Regions from separate parts of the Homo sapiens genome. Here region 1 is linked to region 2. Evidence: fine-mapped expression QTL. A gene starts in region 2. The other region holds a variant in brackets. All regions are shown on one strand. Distances are between the middles of the regions. Region 1 overlaps VIPAS39 (VPS33B interacting protein, apical-basolateral polarity regulator, spe-39 homolog). Region 2 holds the start of AHSA1 (activator of HSP90 ATPase activity 1).

The links.
Region 1: its variant is fine-mapped to the expression of AHSA1 in monocytes after LPS (Fairfax 2014, PIP 0.95).

Annotation. Positions count from the first base shown.
Region 1 is chr14:77,434,131-77,437,042 of GRCh38, reverse strand. It overlaps VIPAS39 (VPS33B interacting protein, apical-basolateral polarity regulator, spe-39 homolog), which reads left to right. Exons shown (of 20, transcript NM_001193315.2): 13 at 1,124-1,199; 14 at 1,650-1,784; 15 at 2,740-2,781. Among named protein-coding and RNA genes, the nearest start is that of NOXRED1, 12 kb to the right of the region's middle. The variant C/TC (reference allele first, on the strand shown) is at 1,628.
Region 2 is chr14:77,456,734-77,459,645 of GRCh38, reverse strand. AHSA1 (activator of HSP90 ATPase activity 1) reads right to left here and starts at 1,553. Exons shown (of 9, transcript NM_012111.3): 1 at 1,377-1,553; 2 at 1-30. The coding sequence starts at 1,456. VIPAS39 (VPS33B interacting protein, apical-basolateral polarity regulator, spe-39 homolog) reads left to right here and starts at 2,045. Exons shown (of 20, transcript NM_001193315.2): 1 at 2,045-2,151. RefSeq lists enhancers at 1,297-1,476, 1,202-1,724, 1,647-2,106, 1,725-2,247.

The sequences.
Region 1 (2,912 bases), 23 kb after region 2:
TATATGGCCTCTGGAAAACAAGGAGAAAAGTTAAAATAGTGAAGTAACTAGAATTTATAGCATCTCTCTTTATCTCTTCTAAAAATTCACTATGGCTAAAACTTATCTGGAATAGTGTAATTAAAACTCAGAATTCTTCCTGGAGTGAGCAGAGTATGGGGAATAATGCAGCACTTTCTAAAAGATATATCTGTGAACTGGGCATTTAAAATCTGGCTTCTATTCTTGGCCTTCCCCATTGACCACATGACTTTTTGGCAAGACGCTGTCCCTCAGCATCTTCATGTATAACAATAATGTGGCCGGGCGCAGCAGCTCACGCCTGTAATCCCAGCGCCTTGGGAGGTTGAGGCAGGTGGATCACGAGGTTAGGAGATCAAGACCGTCCTGGCGAACATGGTGAAACCCTGTCTCTACTAAAAATACAAAAATAAGCTGGGCGTGGCAGCATACGCCTGTAGTCCCAGCTACTCTGGAGGCTGAGGCAGGAGAATTGCTTGAACTCAGGAGGTGGAGGTTGTAGTGAGCCAAGATCATGCCACTGCACTCCAGCCTGGGTGACACAGAGAAACTCCATCTCAAAACAAGCAGACAAACAAAAAACATAATGCAGTGTTGAAGATGGGACCCTTGACATTTGTGATATTTGCTGATCTATAAACATACCACCATGGCATGTAATTTAATTTACCTTTTGTACTCTGCCATAAAAAAATGGCTAACAAATCTAGGTGTCCCCTCAGTAAGTTAAGCACAAGCCACAGAATTTCACTGGGATGTGGATGATGGGCAGTTGCCTAGGCTCACTCATTAGCTTTGTGACTCATTCACCAAATATTCCAACTCTCAAAATGAGAGGATTCTAATTCATTTATCAGCAAAATTATGAGTGACTATAAGTATTTTGTGGACTCTCAGGATCCCTCTTGAATTGGCAAAACCTTTAATATGAAATTCACGCCATTCATGCGATGTCTTTCTTTAAGGGACGCTCTAAAGGTGAACTGAGATCAGACTTGTGAGGCACCGTGAGCCTCTTATACTTATGCTGGCGATTTGGTTTAGTTGGGTTTGTTTCCTTGTTTGAATAGAGAAAGGTACTAACCTTCTGGCACTCTACCAGTTTGCCATTTTCAGCAGAAGATTCCGCACACATACAGGACCATTACACGCTCCTGGAACGTCAGATCATTATTGAGGTTAGACTCTTCATCTCTATATCTTTTGCTTCAGTGCCAAGGCTCAGTGCCGTTCAGCATCTAGGAGATTTCTATGCTCTGCACGTGGGTCATTTCTTACTGGTTTCTAAAAGCCTTTCATTTTCTGCCTGTACACAATAGCCCCCTTCCTCCATTGTTTTTAGGATCCTTTTTCCTCTTACCAGCTGTTAACCTGGAAGTATTTCTTCTTCATCCCGAATCTCCCATGTCCTCCCCACTTCTATTTGTTTCCATCCAATGTGGATTCATGATCATTTGATGGATTTTAAACTACTCTGGGGATATCCTAGGCAATTTCTTTCTTTTTCTGTTCTTTGTTTCTCTCCTAGGGTGGGAAACACAACTGCTGTAGTATTAAAAGATTTTTCTCCTGCCTCTACTCCATGGACATTGTTTTTTTTTTTTTT[C/TC]ACTTGGCTCACTCCACCACAGGCAAATGATCGCCATCTAGAATCAGCAGGACAGACTGAGATCTTCCGAAAGCACCCCCGCAAAGCCTCCATCCTCAACATGCCACTAGTGACAACACTTTTCTACTCCTGCTTCTATCACTACACAGAGGCTGAGGTACAGGCAAAATATGGAAGATTCCACAAACTCTCATTGCACAAAAAGAAGATAGTTCAAATCCAGTACTTTTATGTACTCTATTAATAATGGGTATGTATAGTTCTCAGAAATCCACCTGGAAGCTTTCCTGGCCCTCACCAGGGGTAAGAGGGCCTCATCTGGCCAGGAGGGAAAAGAGGTTTGTAAGGTTTGTAGCTTCAAGTGAGCTGGCATGCTAGCATAGCAAGTTCTGTCCCTGGTGCTGTTACCTGTAGAAGTCTCTGTTCAAAGGTCCACAATATCAAATGGATTAGCATGATGTGGAGAAAAGCAGTAGGGTGGCAAGTAGCTATGGATACTTTTTTTTTTTTTTTCTCTGAGATGGAGTCTTGCTCTGTCGCCCAGGCTGGAGTGCAGTGGTGCGATCTTGGCTCACTGTAACCTCCGCCTCCTGGGTTCAAGCAATTCTCCTGCCTCAGCCTCCTGAGTAGCTGGGATCACAGGTGTGCGCCACCACTCCCCGCTAATTTTTTTTTTTTTGTATTTTTAGTAGAGACAGGGTTTCACCATGTTGGCCAGGCTGGTGTTGAACTCCTGACCTCGTGATCCACCTGCCTCAGCCTCCCAAAGTGCTGGGATTATAGGTGAGAGCCACCGCGCCTGGCTACTCTTTTTTTCTTTCTAAATTTTTCAAAGAAGTATGGATTCCATGATAACAGGCAGACATTTTCTCCTTATTTGGATTAGCAGAAAATGGGAAAAGGCACCATACTTATTACTCCAGTTCTTGATAAGCCAGCTTATAGTGGTATCTGACTATTCCCAATGGAGCTTTTCCCTGAAATTAATTTCTATGTTTAAATGGCAGCAGAGTAAGATGTAGAAAGTCTCTGTAGTGGGAAAGAAAATGAGAGCTTGGGTGGTACTTGGGAAAGTCAATATCACTAAAGTTCCTTTTTCACTTTCATCCTAGGGGACATTCAGCAGTCCCGTCAACCTGAAGAAGACATTTAAGGTAGATACAAATTGGTCAGTGTTATGAAACTAGTGATCAGGGTAACTACATGGAGTGGATGTTGCTTTGTAACCCTGTACAGTGTGTCCTTTGATATTCAAGGTTAAAGGTGGAAAGGAATGAGTTTGGGA
Region 2 (2,912 bases):
GTGGACCAATTTGAAGCATCTCTCTCCGTCCTGCAAAGCAGAAACAGAGCTATGAACCAGCAGTCAAACGGAGGATACGCTGCTCTATGCAAGAGAATACGAGGTTAAAGGAGGCCTGACAAATAGTTTGAAAAGAACACAAAAACTCCCAGTCGCACTCCAGTATGTCCACAAACATGTCATTCTTTTTTAGGAAGACAAGGGGTTGCACACTGTCAACAAAGACAGCTGCTGTAGAAAATGGTATAAACTCAATGGAAAATTATGCTCTCCTTTCTCGGCATGATGGTGCGGGGGAATACTTGATACTTTAACATGGCGCCCCCATTTGACCAAGTGGAAAACTGCACATATTGCTGAGATCAGGAACACAGACTGGACCATGAAAGAATAGTACTTAGCTAAAAGGCCCAGAAAGGATTAAACCAATAACCCTGACCTCATTGGCACGGTGTTCTGACCTATCAGATTCGCACTTGCATTATAAACTTCCTACACATTCACTGTCCCCTAGATGGCCACAAAAACGTTAAGTCCAGGGCTTCAAAACAAACAACAAAAATTAGGTCAAGTACTCTGCATGTTAAGAAGAGAGAATACAAAGTGAGATATGGAAAAGAAACATCACTATCTGCCTTCCTACTTATCAACTATTAGAGAAAACAACAGCAAAAAAGGCTGCAACAAAGTAACGGTACAATACAAACATTACGAAAAAAGTTCAGTGGAATTCAAAAATAAGGAAACTAATATTACTTTGGGAAGATTTCATGAAGGAGGGCAGTTATTTTAAGAACGGTCAGGTTATAAAACCACGGCTGCTCGGCAACCTGGAGTTCCAACACACCCGACCTGATAGTTCCGGGTGAGAGGCCGCAGCTATCTGAGCTCTGAGCACCTGCACAACACGTTCTCAATCTCCCGCGGGACCGCTGCAGCGGTCCCCTATGAATGACTTTTAATTTTACCGCAGGCCGCAAAATAGGAATTACAGACCCCTGGCCTTAGGCCTTTCACAGCTATCTCCCAACACAATCAAAGGAGGTTCCAGTCTCAGTGACTCCTCTGGCCACGTGTAATAAGCACCTCCCTGCTCGGGCTGGATGCAGCAGCCAGGGCGTTATCTCCTAGTCTCTCTGACAACCCTCCTCTGGGGCGCAGCCCTCCACGTCCATCTCCCTCCCCTCAAACACTGAGAAGGTGACCGCGGAGTGGAGAGGCCTGGGGCTACGGACCCCTGCCACAGGAAGGACCCACCCCCATCTCCGGACAGGGCTACCTCAGCCCCAGCTCTGTCCGGGCCGAGGTTCTAGGAACCCTGAAACCCTGGCCCGGCCGCAGGTCTCCCAAGGCCGGCCTGCTTTTCTGGCCCTCACCAGTGCCAGTTGTTGACGTTGGTGGCGTCCGCCCGCTCCTCCACGATCCAGCGTGGGTCTCCCTCACCCCACTTGGCCATCGGCTCTCCTATCGCGGCGCCACCAGCTCCGGAGCAGCCGTAGCCACAGCCTCAGGACCGCTTAGTGCCAGCCGCCCGGCAGCGCCTGGAAACTACTAGAAGCGGCCGCAAGCACCTCCTGGCTTGCTTTTCCCTCCACCCCCTCCCCTCCTTAACTTCCGGCTCCTCCCCACTCCCACCGGTTACTTCCGTCCCAACTCGCCGCACCGTGGGTTCCGCCTGATTTAGAGATCCTTCAGACTCCATCGGGTTCTCCCCAAAAAGCGTCCCGAAACCCAACTGCTCATACAACCATTCCTCACCCATAGGAAAACAAAGAACACGTCTCATTGCTTCCCTGGACCCTAAATCGCCCTTGCTGAGCCTCATGGGAATTGTAGTCTTGCTACGTGACTCGCTGGATAACCGCGGAAGGTCTCGCGGAAAGGAGAGGAAATGACCTAGCACGGTGCTTGGGGTTTCTGGGGGCTGTAGTCAAGAAGCCTTGTGGTTCGTCGGGACAGCGCCTGACAGCAGAGGCAGAAGAAACTACGACTTCCAGCATGCCCTGCGGTCTCGTTATTCGTGTTTTCTCTCCGCCCTACGATTATTCCCTTCCGCCCCCTTCTCTAAGCTGCACAGCCTGAATAGAAGGGCTGGTCCAGCGGCGGCGGAGGCTGGCGCTGTCCTGAGAGGGAGGGCTCTGTGCGGAAGAGGTGAGGGTGTCCCAAGCCCCTTGGGTCGCGTATCTGGCTGGATCCAGCCTCTCCGCATCTTGATCTTTTCCCCTCTTCTAGGAGGCATCCCTACACCCTATGACTACAGGCCTGATTCTCTTCTTTCAGTCAGGGCGACCCTTGGGCGCTGGAGTACGCTTGGGACTGGGGCTGCGAGTGAGCACCAGCGATTGGTTCGGAAGCGGACATTTGGTTCAGAACGAGCATTTAACTCTGCCAGGGATCCGCTGGGCTCTGACGACTGCGGTAGATCCATGGCTTCCTGGACGTTCACCCGTAGAGTCATCCTAGCTTAACTCTTGTTCCCTGGTCTCAGTTCACAAGCCTCACCTGTATCTTCCTGGCTCGGAAGATAATTGAAACCAAGTCTGACTTCTCAGTAGGTGGTTTTTGGAGTTTTCTGAGGCAGGGAGCATGTTGTGGTTTTCTTGCTGATTCTTCTGTTTTCCTTTGTAAAGTTCCTGTTCTCCCCTGAGGTCTCTCACCCTGCCTTGTGGGCTGTCAGTAAACAAGAGACGATAAAGACAAACCTCTGAAGTATTTTAAATCATGTTGAAGCACCTGTCACTCTTAAGAGTGACAATCGTACCTGATTACTTTATAACTCTAGAGCCACTAGATCATTATCTATACTTGCCAAGTAAACCTAGCTTCTCATTTGGCGTTATAAATACAAATTGATGGCAGTTGTCTACTGCCATTGCATGGTTAAAAAGATTCCAGAAATCCTCTGGTAGATT